6 linked regions of the Homo sapiens genome follow. The protein of the gene in region 1 purifies or fractionates together with the protein of each later gene. This does not show direct contact. Each region holds a gene or a part of one and is shown in the gene's direction. Other genes may lie near its edges. The genes, in order: KLHL4, BOD1L1, VPS13D, SHROOM3, GIT2 and PLXNC1.

Region 1 (3,997 bases):
AGTCAAACTAAAAGCAAAATCTTACAACTTCAGTGTTCTTTCTAGTCATACACCAGTATAATTTCCCCTTTATCACCTGTATGCATGATATGAGAACTGGATAAAGTACAAACTGAATTTCAAAATGTCAATGATAAATGCATTCTTGATACATGACTGTCTTTTGTAAACATGTCCATCTGTACAAAGTAGTGATTATGATTCAGATCTCAAAGTACTTTGGGCACAGTTATTCCTGAACAGTGTGATGATTTGGAATTAATTCAAAACATACTCTGTTCATCCTCTCATAAGGGTTTTTGAACAAAGAAAATAAACCTTTAACACTGCCTGTGAAAGTAAAAGGCATGATAAGAAGGTTTGTATCCAGGCATGGAGCCAGAATGAACTATTCATTTTCAAGCTGTGGTAACTGAGAGAAGACATCTCTTTTAACCTAACTAGCTTGGAAAAGCACTGCTTTCTTCCTCCATATGTAGACTAAAAATACCATTTCTACATTCCCAAATGGCGTGTTTGTGTGAGTGGTCATGGGTAACCAATACTTTCTTACATGTTTCTAAAATCTGTCAAGTTTTCAGGTAAATATTCATATAGAGACTTTCACATTTTCAGATTAATTTTGTAAAAACTAATTACGAACCCGCATGAGGGTACTGATGCTTTCCCTTAATGAACCATTTTCAAAGTTTCCATAAAAGGAATCTCAAAATAGATTATAATGAATTCCTCTGTCGCATATTATCATGGAACAAAGTGGCACATTTTTAGAAGTGGGCTACTGAGAAATGAATCTAGCAGGGGAGGCGTGAGTAGAAGGAATCTAGAAGAAAATAAGTTTAAACACTTCGCTTTGGCTCACTTGCCTGGGTTTCAGCTGCAGCTACTGTACTTTGATACTGAAGAAGCAGGGCTAGATATTTGCAAGTCCAAGCAGGAGGGCTGCAAGCCTGCAAATCTAACAGCTGGAGAGTGTTGTGGTGGCTGCTTTCCTGTGGTAAGCTGATTTACTTGTTTAAGGTCTGACCTCATCATCCTGTCAGCATGGGTTCCCACCTACACTGTTAGCTGCAGCCTTCTGCTTCTGCTAGAAGGCTACAAGTATTCACAGTGTATCATAGGCAGTGGGGGAGGGGAGAGAAAGCAAGAAAGACTGCTCTCGGCACTTGTGCTTTTGTTAGTTCTACAGAAGAGGCAGAAAAACAAGAGATAACAAAGGCTCCGTTTCCTTTCTGTGAGAGAAGGCTTTTGTCTTTCCTCCTGCTACGATGTCAGTGTCTGGCAAGAAAGAGTTTGATGTGAAACAGATCCTAAGGCTACGCTGGAGGTGGTTTAGTCATCCTTTTCAAGGTTCCACCAACACTGGAAGCTGTCTTCAGCAGGAAGGATATGAGCATAGAGGGACCCCGGTTCAGGGCAGGTTGAAGAGCCACTCTCGGGACAGAAACGGACTGAAGAAAAGCAACAGTCCTGTCCACCACAATATACTGGCACCAGTGCCAGGACCGGCCCCTGCCCATCAGAGAGCCGTTCAGAATTTGCAGCAACATAATCTGATAGTACATTTTCAAGCAAATGAAGATACTCCTAAATCAGTTCCAGAGAAGAATTTATTCAAAGAAGCTTGTGAGAAACGCGCACAAGATTTGGAGATGATGGCTGATGACAATATAGAAGATTCTACAGCAAGGTAAGAGTTTTTGGTCGCATAACTGAATGCCGTAACTTCAGTTAACTTATCCTCTACAATTCATGTTTAGTGTTTAAATAGAAAGTGTCATAATAATCTCTGAGTTTGTATTCAGCCAATCAGAGTCTCTCAGAAACCGTCTCCTCTAAGTTTATAAAAGAAAACAGCAATAATGAATACGTCTTTATAATTACCGGAAATTTGGGGGGTGGGTTATGAGTTTACTTCTCCTATTTTCATTAAGAATTCTGTTTCAATTCTAAGAGATGTTTATTGTAATTACTAATGTTCTATAAATACACTCCGTGGCTCAGATGTTTAAATGCAATTCTTTGTGCAAGTGTTATGAATCACGGAGAACTCTTTCTGACATTGTGAGTTAGGCCAACTTTAACAAAATAAAAGCTGTGACTGATCAGCACATCCTTATCTGTTTCCTTAGTACATAGTTGCGATATTGACTCTTAAAACTGTGTTATCTTTATGTGACAATATGGAATATTTGGCGTTCGGAGACTCATTTCAAGTTGTATTACTTTCATAGCTAGTTTTTGCAAGCATGAAAATATTCTACATAAAGCAGGTAATAAGATGCTACTTACAGCAATGTGATCTTAAAGCGGGAAATGGAGCATTTCAGCTTTTACATAAAATGAAAATTGAATAAACAGTGACGATATAGTGTAGTTTGGGTATAGTTCATAAAACATTTGATTTTGTCTTTACTTTTATGCCCACCGGTATTGTTTGAGTGCAAGAAAATTACATTCTGTTCTCTAATACTGTCAACTATAACTTAACCTAGTGTATCCTTATCTCTTTGTTTTTTGCTTTTTCACTATCAGACATTTTTATAGTCCCAACGTGTTTTAGACACAGTTGATAATATTGGCAATGTAATTAATATTCAGTAGTACTATAGAAAAATAAGTGTTTTTATGCATTTTAGATCATATAGTAGTTCAACATGCTAATTTATTTGGAAACCTGGATATCTGGCATACTATGTCTCTACCTAAAAATAGAGAAGAAGGACTGGCAGATTTGCTTCTTAATATAAGTTTTCCCAATAAAACAACCTCACAGTGTCTTGCTTTCATAAATTCAAAACAGTTTATCAGAAGAAGAAGCAGCCTAATAACATTACAGCAAAATGATGCCTTTATAGGAACTCAGTCTTGTTGAAATATAAACATGCAGAAGACTTTGTGAAATGACATTAATAATAATGTTAGATTGTCTGTCATATAAACTTCTCAGGAAATAAAGCACGTATGTGTGAAATTTTCCTAAATATTTTGTGCTTGCTCGTGGAAAAGCTATATAACTGTAGGGATTGCAGGTTGCATTTGGTACAACAAATAAGACTCTCAAAGTAATATAGAGTCCATAATTTTAAATTCAGCAGGCTTTCAAATTTGTTCTCGTCACCAAGAACAATTTTTAAAAAACTGCTGAATTTGGAGATTAATAAATGAATTTAACTCTGCTGTAGGGAAATTTAAATTACCAACTGTAACTTTGGAACAAAATTATTTGAGAATACATGAATTAATTTTCTAGTATGGGAATATTTACAATAAAATAGATGTTAGAAAAAATGTTAGGTAAAATGTCACATTTAAAGCGTCATCAAGTGACAGTTTAAAAAGCGCATTTATCCTTTGATTTTATTCCTGACATTTTTTATTTTCTAAAGAAATGCCTTGTTAATTATTCTATGGTTTCATTGGAAAGCTAACGTTTTCTTAATATACATACAGGAAATGGTTTTATAGGTGTGCCAAGGATATCTTAGGCAGGAGGGGCTAAATTGAAGATCTTATTAATTGAAATACGATGGTTTATTACCTTCTCCTTAACCATTCTAAATCTTCCTGTCTTGGTCCAGCATCATTTGAGAAGGAGCTTTCTGATGCCTTGCTTCTCCAGTGCCTCTCTTCTTGAGCAATATTGAGGAGCAGGAAGAAAAGATCCCAACAAGTTGGCAGCAGGCTGCCATCCCCTCAATATGACTCCAGTGGTTTTTTAAAAAAGAAAACAGTAGTGAGTGTGGAGAATTATCATACTAGCACAAGATGAGCTATGACGCTCAGAGTAAAGTAAGGCTCTTTAAGCCATCCAGATTTCTACAAATATTATGGGGAATAAATAGAGAATGGACTAAATTGCAAACATACAATATAGCAGAATAAATCACAGTTAGTCCTGGAAGGGATATTAAAGCCAACATTGTTAAAGTTATGTTGACATGTTGGTTTGGAAAGTTAAAAATTCAAATGTATTCATATGAAATTGAATTATAAA
Region 2 (3,532 bases), on another chromosome or scaffold:
TAGTGTGTTTAAACCAGGATGAGAAGTACCAAAGTCTGCTGCTACACCAGAAGACCACAGAACCCTGGTCTTCTGGGAGGCCGAGGTGGGTGGATCATTAGAGGTCAGGAGTTCGAGGCCAACCTGACCAAAATGGTGAAACCCCATCTCTAGTAAAAATACAAAAAAAGTAGCCATGTATGGTGGCACATGCCTGTAGTCCCAGCTACTCGGGAGGCTGAGGCAGGAGAATTGCTTGAAGCCAGGAGACAGAGGTTGCAGTTAGCCGAGATTGTGCCAGTGCACTCCAGCCTGGGAGACAGAACAAGACTTGGTCTAAAAAACAAAAATTTTTAAAAAGCAACAATACACATTTTTCAATACAGTTGCATATACTATTTAATAATTATGAAAATTTCTAATATTTCTGTTGCTTTGAGAAATTAGAACTGAAATGACACCCTCCCAGACAAAAAAGAACACTCAGCTATGGTTGAAGTTCTGGTGCTCAGACGCTAGCTTAAACTCTCCCACAAAATCTCTCTCTCTCTCCCCCTCCCTGCCACTAACCTCTGTACCTGCTCCTGGTTATGTTACAGGTTATGTTCTGGTACTTCCTTTACCCCATGACTCTCTCCTTCTCTTCTACTCCCTTAGTTAGCAATTAGGTAGATTTTAATTTGATTTAAAAGATTTGTTCTCATTGAATACCATTTTATACTTCATTTTCTTATTTGAAAAAAAAAAAAATATATTCCCCCCTGCTTCCCAAAAAGCCAAAGTTTTCTTCATCAGAACATAACATTCATATCAATATGATGAGTGGGCCAAAGTAGAAGATTCCCTGTTCATGCAAAGAACCATCACTTTAATGGAATCCTTGAGTTTCATCTGCCACTTGAACCTCAAAGACTGACCTGCTTTCTGTCAAAAAGTCTTAACTTGTAGCATATAGAGTTATAGTGGATTATGTCTGTCACATGCATATTTAAGAATGAAGACATTTGATACCTGCCAGGTGCTAAGAGCAAAACTGTCATCCAGTTTAGTGTGTTTAAACCAGGATGAGAAGTACCAAAGTCTGCTGCTACACCAGAAGACCATAGAACCCCCCTCCAAACTGTCCAGGGTCATTGATAGTCCTTAACCAGGAGAGAGATCTGACTGTAACAGACCAAATCAGCCCTTCCCACCCAAAGAAATGGAACCATGGGCAACCCTAAGCTCCAACTACTGCAAAGACTCCTCCGTTATAGACTACCAGTTTCCAGATCTCTGGAGCAAGCTTAGTGGTTACAAAGCCATTCTGTCTCCTTTGCACTGATTAGCATCTGGAGCGTGTGAGGAGGGATGATCAAGAGGCCCTTCAGGGAGCTCGCCAGCCAGGTAAATATGGTACCTCTCTTGTCAAGTAAGAAAGTCTGATTTTTTGGACACTTTCTTAGTTATAAATGGCCCCTGGTCAATTTATTCACCCAACAAACATTCATTGAGCAACTCTTATGTACCAGTCATTTTTTTAGGTGCCAGGGATACAGCAGTGAACCAAACATCCCACTGTTATGGAGCTTACATCCTAGTAGAAAAAAAAAATAGACAACAAGTAATGTATGGTAGGTCCTATGGAAAAAAGCAAGATGAGGGATGGATGGGCTTACTGTTTTATTTCGAATAAGCTGTTCAGGGTAGGTTTCAATGTGATGATACTTGAGCCATCTGTGAAGGAATTGAAGGGGCAATGCAGCTGTCTGGGGCTTGAGCATTCCAAGAAGAGAGCATAGCAAGTATAGAAGAGCTGAGACAGACCCACTAAGGGGAAAGTGACAAGAGGTGAGGTAGGTATGCCTTCACAGATCTGGCAGGTCTTGGGAGCCATCAGAAGACCTTGGCTTTTACTCGAGCTCAGAAGCCATTGGCAGGTTTTGAGCAAAAGAAGGACATGATCTGACTTCCATTTCAGATGGGTTGACCACGTGTAATAGCTTCCCCTTTCTTGCTAAGTTGTGATTTGAATGGGTCAATAAATTACATGGTTACCTGATTTTTAGAAGACAACTTTGTTGTAGGTAAGGATAGAATTCTGCATGAGGCCAGTTGTTATAATTCAGACAGATGAGAATGCCTTGGAACAGATTGAGGTCAGTAAAGGTAGTGGGAAGTGGTCAGATTCTGGGTGTATTTTCATGCTACTGTTGAGAGAATTTGCTAATAGTATGCATGTGAAGTAGAAGACAAAGGGAGGACTCAAGGATAACTCTAAGGCTTTTCACCAAAGCACTGGAAAAGGAAGAAAGGGTGGAAGTATGTGTAATATATGTGTGTGTGTATATATGTGTACATGTGGGTACATACATGTTCCTAGGAGAATACTTCTCAATGAATACTTAATATTTCTCTAGTTGCTCAACTTTTTACTGAAAGGAGAGCTTGAAAACAAGGAAAATTACCTGTTGAGTAGTTCAGATTTGAACTTGTTCTGGGAAGACTAGACTAGAATGCCAAATGCATTGTGATGTTAGAGCCTAATGAATGTGTGTTAGATTTGGGAATACCGGAAAGAAGAATTAGGCTTTAGAATCATTGGGGAGAAAGAATTAAGAATTAGTTTTAGGGCTGGGTATGGTGGCTGACACCTGTAATCCCAGCACTTTGGGAGGCCGAGAAAGGTGGATCACTTGAGGTTAGGAGTTCAAGACCAACATGGCCAATATAGCAAGACCTTGTCTCCACTAAAAATACAAAAATTAGCCAGGTGTGGTGGCGCATGCCTGTAGTCCCAGCTACTCAGGAGCCTGAGGCACTAGAATCACTGGAACCCGGCAGGTGGAGGTTCCAGTGAGCCGAGATCACACCACTGTACTCTAGCATGGGCAATCGAGCAAGACTCTGCCAAAAAAAAAAAAAAAAAAGAATTAATTTTAGTTCATATCGATTTTGGATAAATGGACAGGCACATAGGAAATGATCATGTAGGACAGGAAATAAGTATCAGCAAAGGCCTGAAAATTGGAACTGATGAAAGGGCATCAGAGGGATAAAATGTTTGTCATTCTGTGTTAGAGATAGTTACCCATTCAGCTAACAAGTATATTTTAATTGCTCATTTGCCAAGCAGTGTGATAGGCTATATGAAAACAAATTGTAAGAGAGATAGAGGAGGAGGCTTACACATCAATGGAGGATAAATATGCCTTGCTTCCGAAAATACAATGTAGTGCAAGAATTGCTCGAATGGTAGCATGTATAGAAAACAGTAGGAGCGTGGATGAAGAGCCCATAAGCCTACCTTCGGTGTCAAGATGATTTCACAGATTAGGGTGAGCTCTGAAGGTGAGAAGTTTGTCAGATGGACAACCAGAGGGAATGGTAGTTGCAGGATGGTAGGTGCAGATATGAGAATTTCTCACTGGAGTGTAAACTTTGAAGCTAAAAGGAGGCAAATGGCAGAAGGTGAGGCTATACAGTGCTTGCTTAATATCAGTCAGGGACACTCAAACTCATCCACATTAAAAGCTGTATAGAAGAAAGGTAGAAAGAACATCAGTGTTGGGAG
Region 3 (3,532 bases), on another chromosome or scaffold:
TTTGAGATGGAGTCTCACTCTGTCACCCAGGCTGGAGTGCGGTGGTGTGATCTTGGCTCACTGCAACCTCTGCCTCCCGGGTTCAAGGGATTCTCCTGCCTCAGCCTCCCGAGTAGCTGGGATTACAGGTGCCTGCCACCATGCCTGGCTAAGTTTTGTATTTTTGGTAGAGACAGGGTTTCACCATGTTGGCCAGGCTGGGTTTGGACTCCTGACCTCAGGTGATCCACCTGCCTCGGCCTCCCAAAGTGCTGGGACTCCAGGCGTGAGCCACCACCCCCGGCCTCTTTCATGAATTTCATTCAGACAATCTCTTACGGCATTTTCTGTCTTAATCTAGGATAAGGTTTCTTAACATTGGCTCTGTTGACATTTGGGTTGGATAATTCTTTGCTGTGGGAGCTGTCTTGTGTGTTGTAGGTTTAGCAGCTTCCGTGGTCTTTATTCACAAGATGCCAGTAGCAGCCCCTAAGTCATGATAAAAAATGCCTCCAGAGATTACTAAATTATGCCCATAGGAGAACCTCTGATCACGGCAGTCTAATCCCAAGGTAAATCAACATAAGCAAGCAATGGACAGTTACACTGAAAAGATAGACAGCTTTGAATTGTAGGTAATTTTTGGTAAATTTAAGAGTGACTATTCCCTGAAGCAGCATCAGAATGTAGGTGTTTTGGTTTGGCCCTCCAGTTACTGATGGGGACATCTTACAGAGCTTCTTGCCTCATCTTTTAAAACATCTGCAGCCGGGCGCAGTGGCTCATGCCTGTAATCCCAGCACTTTGGGTGGCTGAGGCGGGTGGATCACCTGAGGTCAGGAGTTTGGGACAGGCTGGTCAACATGGTGAAACCCCATCTCTACTAAAAATACAAAAAATCAGCTGGGTGTGGTGGTGGGCAGCTGTCATCCCAGCTACTTGGGAGGCTGAGGCAGGAGAATCGCTTGAACCCGGGAGGCAGAGATTGCAGTGAGCCGAGATTGTGCCACTGCACCCCAGCCTGGGTGACGAGAGCGAAACTGTCTCAAAACAAAAACAAAAACACAAACAAACAAAACCCAACAAAACATCTGTGCTTTGCATTCATCTACCTTCAGGCAGGTAGAGGAGGAAATTGGCTTAGAAAATCATCCTGTTTTTATGTTGATTTTCATTATTTTCCTTTCATAGATTTTTCTGTGACCATGAAAGAGAGAAATAAAGAATGATCCATGATTTCTAAACACCTTTTCCTGAGGATATAGTCATGTTGGAAGGCCTTGTAGCCTGGGTTCTCAATACCTATTTGGGAAAATATGTCAATAACCTGAACACTGACCAGCTCTCAGTTGCACTTCTCAAAGGTGAGTATTTCTCTGGGTGAGATACAGCTTTATAGGTGGCGTTTCTATTTTTGTATTTTTTTTGTTGTCCTGAGAATCATAAAACCTAATGCCCAGATGGCTTTGTACTAAATGTATGTAAAAAGGTCCCATATCATCCTGATGATTTTTCCAGAGTAACTTAAGTTTATAGCTATATTGTTGTAGATTTTAAGGAACTATTAAATATTAAAAAACAAAAACAAAATAAGCTACACTACTGGTGACTGTGCTTAGTCCCAGTTAACTTTTAGCTTTATGAAGCTTTATGGAGGCAGCCACAATGTACCGACAGTGGCATTGACTTTGGCTTCAAATACTGTTTTGTCACTTATTAGCTATGTGAACAATAGCTCATATTGAAATTCCAAGCCTCAGTTTCTTAGACAGAGATAATATACCTCCAGAGGGTTGCTTTAAGGATCAACTGGAATAACATTTAAAGCCCCTAGCCTGCTGGCATATAGTAAGCACTCAATAAAAGTTTTAAAATTGATTATTGTGAGGTGTTCAACAGAATTTCTGAGGTTTTGACTTGCTTAGTAGTAGAGTACCTGAAGCTTCAGACATTTTACCCTTTACAGGCCTAGACTTGGTAAATGCAGTCCCTGATTTGGCATGGGAATTCGAAAACTGCATTTTCTCCCTTTCCTTGTTTTAATTTAAATTCTCTTTGCTCAGCTCAAAATGGAGCTTTTTAACATACGTAGGGAAGAGAAGAAAGTCAGTTTGCCACGTGTGTAAAATCATAGGAAATGGGAAGGAGACTTCAAATACAGTGAAACCTCACCTTTGTGGATGTGAGTTTTGGTAAGTGGACCAGAGCAGGTTAGAGAGAACAGTGACACAGCTGTTTGCGTAGTCTGAGAATAGAGTACCGGTGGTTCACATGTTCCATTAAATGTGTTGCTTTCCGGCCAGGCGCGGTGGCTCATGCCTGTAATCCCAGTACTTTGGGAAGCTAAGGCAGGCGGATCACGAGGTCAGGAGTTTGAGACCAGCCTGGCCAACATGGTGAAACCTGTCTCTACTAAAAATACAAAAATTAGCTGGGTGTGGTGGCGGGTGCCTGTAATCCCACTACTCGGGAGGCTGAGGCAGGAGAATCGCTTGAAACCAGAAGGCGGAGGTTGCAGTGAGCCGAGGTCACACCACTGCACTCCAGCCTGGGCAACAAGAGTGAAACTCCATCGCAAAAAATAAAAAATAAAAAAAAAGTGTTGCTTTTCATGTTTTTCTGACCAAATGATTGTGGCAGCGCTAGGCCATGGGCAGAGCCGTCATGGTCACGCCTCCCCACTCTCTTCCTTTCCTTTCCTATTCTCCTGGTTTTCCTCTTGTCCTGAAACGGGAGCTAAGTGGAAAGTGCGAGTGAGCAGTCTGTCAGGGAAGAGGATGCATTCAAAGTGCAATAGTAGTGTCAAGTTCACCTCTCTGGTCTCTTATTGAAGTTCTCAGACCCACTGTGAAGCTAACTACGTTGTATGACGTATAGATAACAGGGCCTAGAAAGAGAGCTGCAGACCACGACCCTGCTAATCAAAGAGCTGGTTCTGTCAGGAATCATGTGGCAAGAGCATTTGCCAAAGAAATGAGTAAATAGAAATGGATATCTGATGTGTTACAGAGTCGTACTAACATTTCTCAGCAGTTTTAGAATGTATCTTGTAACAACTGTGTTTATCTGGTACTTTAAACTGCTTTTCTGCCCTTATTTCCTTTCTAAAAACATTATTCTTTATGGCTTTTAATGAACCTGTGGAACTTGAAGAATGCTTCTCCGCAGGGTAGAACAATGCTTTTTCTTTTGTAACTGGTGTTAGTATGGTACCCAATGCTTATGGATCCAAAGCACATCACAGAGCGTGGCCAGAACAATCTTGGGGGCATGGAATTGTACTGAGGGAATGGCTTCGTAAAGAAGTTGGTGCTGCTTGTTCGTCTCTGACACAGTTAAGCAGTGTTTGGGAATAGAGAGGGTACTAGATAGGAATGAGAATGTTCTTTCTTTTTTTTTGAGACAGGGTTTCTTTCTGTCACCCAGGCTGGAGTGCAGTGGCGTGATTTCACCTCAATGCCACCTTGACCTTCTGTGCTCAAGCAGTCCTCCTGCCTCAGCCTCCCAAGCAGCTGGGACCACAGGCATGCACCACCACGCCCGGCTAATTTTT
Region 4 (3,532 bases), on another chromosome or scaffold:
AGAGGTGGGCCCTTTATTCCATCATCTGCATCTATGTATAATAAAGGAAAAATAAAGGCATGAGAAGAGCTAATTTGGTTCTTTGCCATCTTCTTCCACCACATGCTGCATTCTGTTTGCCTGGCACTTGGATGATCTTGTGGCAAGCCCTGTGTTATTGCTCTGATGTGGGACTGAGTCACCACTCCCTCAGAGGAGTCAGATCTGTGAGATGAAATGTGCCATCTGCACTCCAGATCCACTCACATAGCCAGTCAGGGAACTGCAGACAGGGAATGTACAAATCACGGTGGGTTTGCTGGAGAGCTTTTTATCCTCACATTAACTCTTGCATAGCAGGTAGTGCCACAGACTCTTTTTTCTGTTTTGTTTTGTGGATTTTTCTCCTTTAGAACACAATAACAAAAGTTTTGCGAATTGTTGGGTTTTTCCTCGGAGTCTAGCGTACAGTTGTTTAAATCACCATGTACTATATTTGCTTATTATTGCCAGCCTCTTTCTCCAGAGGTAACTGCTTATTAGCTCCTTAGGTGAGACTCTCCCCCTCCTTTTTATTTTTCATCAGATGAAATGAAAACACTAGGAGAGTAAGCAAAAGTTGTAAATAAAACCTTCAAATTCAGCAGCCCATGCAAATGCTTTCAAAACAGACCTCCCCCGTGGGGATCGCACTGGGAGAGAAGAAGGCAGCATTATTTTTCCCCAGAGCTGGGAGCTATTTCCTGAAGTAGTCCTAAAAGGGGCTGAAGAAATGTACTGTTTGTTTTTATAGCCTGAAGCCTGTCCTCAAAAGCTGCCTTATGTTGCATGGTGTGTACAGGATGTGGGGGCGGTGAGAGGGTTAATAAAAGAAAATGCCTTGTGAACCCAGTCATTCCATGTGACATTTTCCTGTAGGAATTTATGCCTGCCTAGTACTGGTTTAACTTGGGTCTTCCTGTGAGCAGCCAGGGAAGACAGTGTGCAGTTTCTGGGGGAAGGAAAAGAGGTCCTCCTTCCTCTTAAATGCTTTTCTCATCTATGTAAGGAGCATTGGGCTGCATGTTTGCCCCTTTCTTCAGAGCTGTAACCCTCCTGTCTGTGTGCCGTTCCAGGTCACTCAGTTGTTCAGAAAGAGGCCAAGAAGAGATGCTGCCGCTCTTCCACCATCTCACCCCTCGTTGGGGTGGTTCAGGCTGCAAAGCCATTGGTGATTCCTCCGTTCCTAGTGAATGTCCTGGAACCCTGGACCATCAGAGGCAAGCCAGTAGGACACCCTGCCCCAGGCCACCACTGGCAGGAACGCAAGGGCTGGTCACAGACACCAGGGCTGCACCCCTGACCCCAATTGGCACCCCTCTGCCTTCAGCCATTCCCTCTGGCTACTGCTCACAGGACGGTCAGACAGGGCGACAGCCTCTCCCGCCCTACACCCCTGCCATGATGCACAGAAGCAATGGTCACACCCTGACCCAGCCTCCCGGTCCAAGAGGCTGTGAGGGCGATGGCCCAGAGCATGGGGTAGAAGAGGGAACGAGGAAGAGGGTCTCGCTGCCTCAGTGGCCACCTCCTTCTCGAGCAAAGTGGGCCCACGCAGCCAGAGAGGACAGCCTTCCTGAGGAATCCTCAGCCCCTGATTTTGCAAACCTGAAGCACTATCAAAAACAGCAGAGTCTTCCAAGTTTATGCAGCACTTCTGACCCAGACACACCTCTTGGGGCCCCGAGCACTCCAGGGAGGATCTCCCTCCGAATATCTGAGTCTGTCCTGCGGGACTCCCCGCCACCTCATGAGGATTATGAAGACGAAGTGTTTGTGAGGGATCCGCACCCCAAGGCCACGTCCAGCCCCACATTTGAACCTCTTCCCCCACCCCCACCTCCTCCACCGAGTCAGGAAACCCCGGTGTATAGCATGGATGACTTCCCTCCACCTCCTCCCCACACTGTATGTGAGGCGCAGCTGGACAGTGAGGATCCCGAGGGGCCACGCCCCAGGTGAGTGAGCAGACTGGGCAGCTTTCCCCCACTAACAGGAGAGTGTCATGCCCCAGGTGGCCCAGGTCCTTCTGCTGGCCACAGAAGAACCCTGGCATGGAGATGTTTCTATACAGCTCAGCTCAGGACACTGTTGATCTGTTTGCCTCAGGAGGTAGTTGGACCAGTGTCATTGGGTACTGAGGAGTCAGGGTGGCAGAAATGAAAGCTGGGACCCAAGGGGCACATTTCACTTCTGGGGACAGGATAGGCTTAGGCGGTCCAAGTAAATCCCTCCTCCCTGGATGAGTTCTGAATCAGTTAGGAAATAAGACAAAAGAGGAGGGCATATAGAAGACAAAAACATCACTTTTATTACTGACAGAGCTAACATTAAAGAATATGGCTTCAGATTGTAAGTGGGTCTCTTGATACTGAACCCCCAAGTTAAACAGCTTTACCTACCTCATCAAAGGTCATGTTAGACACACAAATACACATAGATATTAATATATACAGCCTTGAGGCAGCCTCAGTCTCAAAAGAGAAGAGAGACTGGGATGTGAATGCTCAGCTTCTCTTTCCAAAATCACTCCATGTCCATAGGGAGGAATAAAGAGTAGGGCTCAAGGTCAGTAATGTTTAGGGAAAACCTCTTGGAAGCTAGGAGAATGAGAAAGAAGCATTCCCCAACACATAGTCCCTAGAACAAGTAATCTCTCAAAACACCAAAAAAACACATTGCCTGACAGCACCTTTTGAGTGGCTTTCTTTAAACACCACAAGAGTGACTTACTACCACTACCCCTGTTAACCTAGACCTTTCAGAAATCTCTGGAATCTAACAGCAACATTCACCAGAACTGAATTCCTAGTCCATCTTCCTCAGGAGATGACAACCTCCTGACCAGCTGCTGGGCTCAGGAGCCCCTTTAGAGTGCTGTTGTTTTCTAAAGAAGGGGTTGATCTCAAATGTGACTATCTCACCCTACTCCTATGTATATATCTATGTATGTTTGTGTGTCTAGCATGACCTGTGACTAGGTAGGTAAATGTTTTTAGTTTCGGGGTTCAGTATCAGGAGACCCACTTATAATCAGAAGCCATATTCTTTAACATTAGCTCTGTCAGTAACATGTGGAAGATGTGGAAAGCTACAGCCCTGATGTGGAAAGCTTCTCCCTCAGTCTTTCTCCACCCTCTTATCATCACCCTTCTCTTATCACTCTCTCTTTCTCTCTCTCTCTTTTTTTTTTTTTTTTAAATATCCCTGGCAGCTTCAACAAACTTTCTAAAGTGACAATTGCAAGGGAAAGGCACATGCCTGGTGCAGCCCATGTGGTAGGTAGTCAGACACTGGCTTCCAGACTCCAAACTTCTATCAAGGGTTCAGAGGCTGAGTCCACACCACCCTCCTTCATGAGCGTTCACGCCCAACTTGCTGGGTCTCTTGGTGGGCAGCCAGCACCCATCCAGACTCAAAGCCTCAGCCATGATCCAGTCAGTGGAACTCAGGGTTTAGAAAAGAAAGTCAGTCCTGATCCTCAGAAGAGTTCAGAAGACATCAGAACAGAGGC
Region 5 (3,532 bases), on another chromosome or scaffold:
TGAGGCCAGAAGTTCGAGATCAGCCTGGCCAGCATGCTGAAACCCTGTCTCTACTAAAAATACAAAAAAAAAAATTGGCTGGGCATGGTGGCAGGCACCTGTAATCCCGCTACCCGGGAGGCTGAGGCAGGAGAATCACTTAAACCTGGGAGGCAGAGGTTGCTGTGAGCCGAGACCATGCCACTGCACTCCAATCTGGGTAACAGGGCAAGACTCTGTCTCAAAAAAAAAAAAAAAAAAAAGTGCTCACTGTAAAATTATTTAAATTTTTCTTTATTAATAAAGTCCTTGAAAAATAAATCTATAGGTTAGTCTTGAATATCATTTAAATGGCCAAAGATCAGTCATCTTTCCTTCTTTTTCCAAAGTACTTTTATTAACTGTGAAGCACAATACTCTGTTCCACAGAGGATAAAATGGGTGAATAACAAAACTCTGCCTTCCCAGAATTTACTCTCTTGGAAAAGATGATTCATAAATGCCTGAAAGAGTTCAAGGAGGCAAGACCATATGGGATTCATTGCCAAAATAGATAATTGGTCTTAAAAAGCATATATAGGGTTTCTTCATTGTGGTCCAAATCATTTAAGAAATTTCTTCAGCTGGTCTTGAAGAATGGGTTGGATTTGAATGTGTGAAGGGAGAGCTGAAGCATTCCAGGTAAGAGGAAAGGCAGGAGTCAAGATCAGGAGGCAGGGAGGGACAAAGTGTGTTCAGCACAGCAGGAGACCTGACTGGAAAGAACAGAGTGGGTCTGGGAATAACAGCAGGAGTACAGTATTGCATGGTGCTTCATTATTTCACAGAGCACTAAAAAAGAAAAGAGTTCAGCCAATTAAATTATGGTGTATCATCAATTGTAGGACATTTCCTGATTTCACAGATACTAAAAAATGAAAATAAGATGTGCCTCTCACAAATCAAAGCTGTGTGGTAGGTTGAAGGGTGTTGTGAGTGCCTTGAATGGTGGGGAGAGAAGCTGGCTGAAACTATCAGGTTGGTGCAAAAGTAATTGCAGTTTTTGCCATTACTTTTAAGGACAAAAACCACAAAATATACTTGATCTTGGACGAGAGCCCTGGGTAAATGATACTTATTATCACTTACCTTGGAATTTTCGCACTTGTACCTTGCATATAATAATCTCAATATAATTTGTATCCTTGTTGCTGAAAGGATTCTAAGCAGCCTAAGTATTTATTTCATGGATGTTGAAAGGTAAACTTAATATTTTCTGTTGTGCAAATTGAAGATAAGGAGGCAGAAGTAGCTGCAGGCGTGAGCTGTGCGTTAGGTTGGCGTGTCTCTCACTGATTTGAAGCCTTTGAAGTGGTTACTAGACTCTTATCCAGAGTCAGACTGGCTGCATCAGCATCACCTAGGGGAAGGACCTTCTTCAACATATTGGCCCCTGGCCCCATCCTGTCCCCATTGATTCAGAATTTCCAAGGGTGGGGCCTGCACATGGTATATTTCTAGAAATGCGCTAGTTAATTTTTGAGAACTTCTACCGTAAACCATTGATTAATTTCATTTTTTTACCTCATTAAATTAAGTCATTCTGTATCCTTCCCTCTCATAAGTCTTTGAATTTCTTATTAAATATTCTATTTTGGCCTTAATAAAGGAAAGGCGATAGTTCAGATGGTGAAAACAGTTTATAAAAGTGGGATGCAAAGTAGACTTCAGAAATCTACCTACCACAAGAAGGTTGATGATTCTCAAAAGTCTTGTGTGATAAACTGCTCAGGTGTCTCAGGAGACGTCTTTGTACTCCATTTTAAAGTCAGTGAATAGTGAGCAATATAAATGGTACTTTGTTTTCTCTTGGTAGGCAAGGAGGGCACCATGAGCTGGCAGAGCGCCTCGTGGAAATACAGTATGAGCTAACGGACAGACTAGCCTTCTATCTCTGTGGCAGGAAACCAGGTGAGTGGATGGAGAATGACCGTTTCACATCTCCAGTTGGGAAGGTTCTAGAAAAACAAGTTGGGACACTATTTGTTATTACCTCCTCTGCTGTAACATATCACTGAGAAAGCTATACATATGGCTTTTAATTTGAAAGGATAACTACAGAATTGTCAGTTACATGTAAAAGATATAAAGTTGGACAAAACTCCTTAGATTTTTCATTTTTAATAGCTCTAGAGAAATGACTATTTCAAGAATCAGACTGAATAATCAAAGCAAAATTGAATGGGTACCACAGTTCTTGAACATGGTGGGACTAGGAATGTAGGAGCAAAGCAATAACCTTTGTAGTTATTTGAAAAATTCTTCTTAAGGAATGGAAAAAAAGTCCAGAAGTAAACTTTGCCAAAGCCAACTTGGCTATTTGTGATAGGGAACAGGGGTCAGCAAACCATGGTTTGTAGCCCAAATCTAGCCAGTTACTTGTTTTATTAAACAAAGTTTTGTATCGTGCCACTGCACTTCAGCCTAGGTGACAGAGTCAGACTCTGTCTCAAAATAAATAAATAAAAATAAATAAATAAATAAATAAAGCTTCTGCCGGGTGCAACGGGTCATGTCTGTAATCCTAGCACTTTGGGAGGCCGAGGCAGAAAGACTGCTTGCACCTAGGAATTCGAAAGTAGCCTGGGCAAGAGGGGTGAGACTCCGTCTCCACAAAAAAGTTTTTTAAAAAATCAGCCAGGCATGGTGGTGTGCGCCTGTAGTCCCACGTACTTGGGAGACTGGGACTTGAGCCCAGGAATTCAGGGTGGCAGTGAGCTATGATTGTGCCACTGCACTCCAGCCTGGGTGCAGTGACAAAGCAAGACCCCCAACTCTCTAAAAAATAAATGAATAAAGTTTTATTGCAAGAAAGCCGCGCCCAATTATTTATACCTTGTGTATGGCTGCTTTCACATAACAACAGCAGAGTTGAATAGGTTAAGTCGTTGCAACAGGCCAGATGGCCACAAAGCCTAAAATATTTACTATTTGGCCCTTTAAAGAAAATATTGGCCAACCCCTGATGTACAACATTCACATACATGTATGCAGTGATTCTCCATCCTGGTTGTATGATAGAGTTAAGAGCCTCTGGTATAGTTTCAGTTCTGGGTGAGATGGAGTAAGCACACCCCACCGTGTCTCCTGCAAAATAGAACTAACAGACCTGGACCAAATGCTTGGAGTAGCTAGCTAAAGACTCTGAAAAGTAAATCCTGGTTGGTAGATTAGGGAACTCAAAAGTGTCATCAGCTGGTGGTGAGTGTCCTGTTTGTCTTACTTCTGATAGGACTTCAATGACAGCCTGAAACCTGGAGGTACATAATGAGTGCAAAAAAGCCTTTTTCTGCGGGGTGCGGTGGCTCACGCCTGTAATCCCAGCACTTTGGGAGGCTGAGGTGGGCGGATCATGAGGTCAGGAGATCCAGATCATCCTGGCCAACATGGTGAAACCCTGTCTCTACTAAAAATACAAAAAAATTAGCTGGGCATGGTGGCAGGCGCCTATAGTCCCAGCTACTCGGGAGGCTGAGGCAGAATTGCTTGAACCCAGGAGGCAGAGGTTGCAGTG
Region 6 (3,532 bases), on another chromosome or scaffold:
CCCATTCTGAGGCACTGGGAGTTAGGGCTTCAACATACATTTTATGGGGACACATTTTTTGGGGACACAGTTCAGTCCATAATAGTAAGATAAGGAGAACTGAAATTTCAAAACCAAGGCTCTAGCATGACATCCCCCACTCTAGGACCAATTCCATTCTCCATATAAAAGGAGACATTGATGTGGCATGCCCCATGTGCCTGGTGTGTTCATCTATTGACTAGGTTAATCCTCACAACAAATTTATGAGATCTGCTATGGCTTGTCCCTTTTGCAAATGAGGGAACTGGGGGAGGAAAAGGGTTCAAACAACTCACCCCAGCCTCCCAGACAGCTGGTACTAGGAGGTTGGGCTCTGAGCCACAGCAGTATCCTGCTTTGCTATAAAGTAAGAGGCTCCCTACTGTTCTGTCACCTGCGACATTCTGAGCCTGTGTGTCTTGGCTGCTCCTTGGTCACTGTGCCTTGAGCAAGAATGTGGCTCTAAATGCTGGCCATCGGGAGATCACGCTTGGCTCGGTTTTCTGGTAATGGCTACAGACTGGCATGAGGCCAACTCAGCCCTTCCCCATTGTGGCTGGAGGATTCAGAGATCAGTGTCTTCTCTCTGCCCTACACAAATTGGGTTGCTCAGGCCCACCTCCTGGTCTTGTCATCAGGGGCTCAGCTGGCTGTTGGACCTGACGTACCCAGGCTCTTGTCCCCTAGAATGAGTGTCTGGTGACCTACGTGAACAGGGGTGCAAGGGCAGACAGAGCTGTGGACAGCTGTTTCTTTCACACCCAGTGACCGCTTTGCTTATATGCACTGAGAAACGTGAAGTTATTTGGCCTGGTTTTAGAGAGATGGAATGCAGCTGTTATTTATACGGCGTACCAAATAGGAATTTACACTTTGCATGTCATCTGTAATTCTACCTTGCCCAAAGTGTTTCCTGTCTCTCTAAATAACATACCATTGGTAGGTTAGGAGTTTGATTTTGAAAATTCTTAGATTGAAGTCTCTTTATATAGATTAAACAGTAATCAAACAAAATTCTGTTTAGTGAAACCTTTTCAAGGTACAGCTCCTGATCTGATTATATGTGGCGATATGACACAAACAAAATTCAAATTCCATCAAAGAATCTGGGCATTTTCCTAGAATTAAAATAGGATCTGACCTGAATTTTTATATTTATGCATCTTGAAACCCATGAATTTGTGGCTGGTATCCTGAAAAGATTCCCAAAATTGTCCTGTATTTGAAATTAAAATTCATTAATTTGCTCTCAAACATAATTGGGTTTAATATTAAACATGAATAAATTGATAGCTTTGTTCATAAATGCAAAATGCCTGTGTGTTAGCTATGAAACCCTTATTGTTGCTTTTATTCCTTGCAGTGGTGGTCAAAATATAACCATGATGGGCAGAAATTTTGATGTAATTGACAACTTAATCATTTCACATGAATTAAAAGGAAACATAAATGTAAGTCTCCAGCTGCTTTGTAATAATAGTTGTTTTCAAGGATGGTTCTATTTTCATCACACTATGCTATGTTGGGGGTATTTTTTGTTTCTGTGACTTTGGTGTTATAAACTTTTACCTATGCTATCATATATTCTATCCATGCTAGAATGGAAATAATAAGACCTTATCCTTGTAGCTGAGTATTTCTAGTTGCAGCAATGAGGAAAGAGAAATGAACTTGGTACGATAAGACCTGACATTTTCTTTTTATGTGATTTGTGGCAAGTCACCCTAATGAGGCAATGCTTATGAATATGTGTGAAAATGCTCCGTGAATGGTTAAGGTGTGATATAAAGAATTGCATTTCTGTGAAGAGTAGGTGGTATTGTTCCCATTGCACAGAGAGAGTTGGGTTCACAGAGGTTAGATGACTTGCCAAGGTCCCAGAAATCTTGTCATGTGCTTCTCCTTCTCTTCGACCCAATTTGTTCCCTACCATCTGATGTCACCTTCTCTTACCTTTCGTCTCCCCACAGGAGAAATGGTAGGAGGGGTCTGGTTTCCACCTTTGCCCGATTCTCCCACTGGTGCCTCCAGATGGGGATCCTCTAGAGCAGGGGTGTCAACCTTTTGGCTTCCTGTGGCCACATTGGAAGAAGAATTGTCTTGGGCCACACATAAGATACACCAACACTAACGATAGCTAATGAGCTAAAAAATGGTTTGTGCATAATTTCCGTGATATCCACCACCACAGATAAGCAAAAAAGTCCTCACATTCAAAAGGCTGGACACGGCTGCTCTAGATGGAAGCTTCTGATGCCAAGAGGGGAGATGAGGGATTTCACATACAAGTCAGGCCTCCAAGTGTACTTGCACACACTTCTAAATATCCTTCCCCATTCTTTCTTCCCCTTTTTCCCTCTCCTTGATGAGATATGTGAGGTGGCTGCCTCTCTGGGGCCCTGCCTGACCACTTCCTGCCAAGGCTGACACACTCCCTCCTCAGGAGCAGTGTGGGTTCAGACCCAAATTCCGGGGGCCGCCTGATAGGCCGTCCTTACAGCCTTGTGGTGCACACATTCACCTGCTGACACAGTTCAGAGCCACTTCCAAGCCTCACACTGTATCTGACTCCAGGCCTCATCTCCATGGTGTGAACACCTCCAGTTGAATGGCTCGTATAGTTTGACCCTCTGAGCAGAGGCATTACCTGAGTTTGTCACGGACTTGCTCTCCCTCCTACTTGCTGTTCCCAAATCAAGTTGAATTTTTTGAGCACCTACTGCAGGCAAAACATTTTGCTGGGTGCAGGGACAAAAGATAAGTGAGATAGTCATATTGCCTTCATGGAGGCAGGCAGCAAATCTACATTGGGATTGAAAGTTGAGGCTGGGTGTGGTGGCTCACGATTATAATCCCAGCACTTTGGGAGGCCAAGGCGGGAAGACTGCTTGAGGCCAGGAGTTCGAGACCAGCCTAGGCAACATAGTGAGACCCCCATCTCTATAAAATAAAAATTAAAAAAGTTGACAGCACAGAGTATCATCAGGTTCTAGGTCCTCTGGTTCCCTAACTGTTCAGAAACCCTGTGAGTCCAAGAAGACACCATTTCTTTTCACATTAAAGAGAAATTAAACATGCATGGGATTAAGTACGCCTGCAGTATGGAGTGGGGTGGGTGGAAGCAGGGAGGTGAGTTCAGGTACAGAGGACAGAGTCCTCGCAGGCCCGTGCTGGGAACATCACTCAATCCTGCTTAGTGGGAACCTAGAGGGTGGGTCTGGAATGACCAAGAGCGATAGCTGTAAAACTGAGCTGGGGCCACAAAAAGCAGCGTCAGACTGAAAACTTTGCCCTTAATTCTGTAGGCAGCAGGGAGCCACTGAAGATCTCTGAGCAGGAAGTGACATAGGTCTAGGTACACTGGACTCACACTGGACCGAGACAATTAGTGACAATGAAAGCAGTCAGAAGGTTACCAATGGGAAAAGAGACTATGCAGAAAGCAGTAGACTAGGGAAAGGGGAGGATTCTGACCCAAAAGGCTTCGGTGTCCTGTCTTGAGTCCTGGGAA

What was found.
Region 2: the proteins of KLHL4 (region 1) and BOD1L1 purify together in Homo sapiens (affinity purification with mass spectrometry, with the first as the bait; one large-scale study listed by BioGRID). This does not show direct contact.
Region 3: the proteins of KLHL4 (region 1) and VPS13D purify together in Homo sapiens (affinity purification with mass spectrometry, with the first as the bait; one large-scale study listed by BioGRID). This does not show direct contact.
Region 4: the proteins of KLHL4 (region 1) and SHROOM3 purify together in Homo sapiens (affinity purification with mass spectrometry, with the first as the bait; one large-scale study listed by BioGRID). This does not show direct contact.
Region 5: the proteins of KLHL4 (region 1) and GIT2 purify together in Homo sapiens (affinity purification with western blotting; one study listed by BioGRID). This does not show direct contact.
Region 6: the proteins of KLHL4 (region 1) and PLXNC1 purify together in Homo sapiens (affinity purification with mass spectrometry, with the first as the bait; one large-scale study listed by BioGRID). This does not show direct contact.

What each region holds. Positions count from the first base shown.
Region 1 is NC_000023.11:87,516,626-87,520,622, forward strand, and holds the start of KLHL4 (kelch-like protein 4), read left to right. Parts: upstream 1-1,176; 5' UTR 1,177-1,268; coding exon 1,269-1,690; intron 1,691-3,997.
Region 2 is NC_000004.12:13,621,223-13,624,754, reverse strand, and holds part of BOD1L1 (biorientation of chromosomes in cell division protein 1-like 1), read left to right. Parts: intron 1-3,532. UniProt on the Homo sapiens protein: Component of the fork protection machinery required to protect stalled/damaged replication forks from uncontrolled DNA2-dependent resection.
Region 3 is NC_000001.11:12,233,021-12,236,552, forward strand, and holds part of VPS13D (intermembrane lipid transfer protein VPS13D), read left to right. Parts: intron 1-1,170; 5' UTR 1,171-1,246; coding exon 1,247-1,343; intron 1,344-3,532. UniProt on the Homo sapiens protein: Mediates the transfer of lipids between membranes at organelle contact sites. Functions in promoting mitochondrial clearance by mitochondrial autophagy (mitophagy), also possibly by positively regulating mitochondrial fission.
Region 4 is NC_000004.12:76,753,217-76,756,748, forward strand, and holds part of SHROOM3 (protein Shroom3), read left to right. Parts: intron 1-1,094; coding exon 1,095-1,976; intron 1,977-2,306; exon of another isoform or gene 2,307-3,232; coding exon 3,233-3,532. UniProt on the Homo sapiens protein: Controls cell shape changes in the neuroepithelium during neural tube closure. Induces apical constriction in epithelial cells by promoting the apical accumulation of F-actin and myosin II, and probably by bundling stress fibers.
Region 5 is NC_000012.12:109,979,349-109,982,880, reverse strand, and holds part of GIT2 (ARF GTPase-activating protein GIT2), read left to right. Parts: intron 1-354; exon of another isoform or gene 355-810; intron 811-1,701; exon of another isoform or gene 1,702-1,834; coding exon 1,835-1,929; exon of another isoform or gene 1,930-1,976; intron 1,977-3,532. UniProt on the Homo sapiens protein: GTPase-activating protein for ADP ribosylation factor family members, including ARF1.
Region 6 is NC_000012.12:94,242,554-94,246,085, forward strand, and holds part of PLXNC1 (plexin-C1 precursor), read left to right. Parts: intron 1-1,384; coding exon 1,385-1,472; intron 1,473-3,532.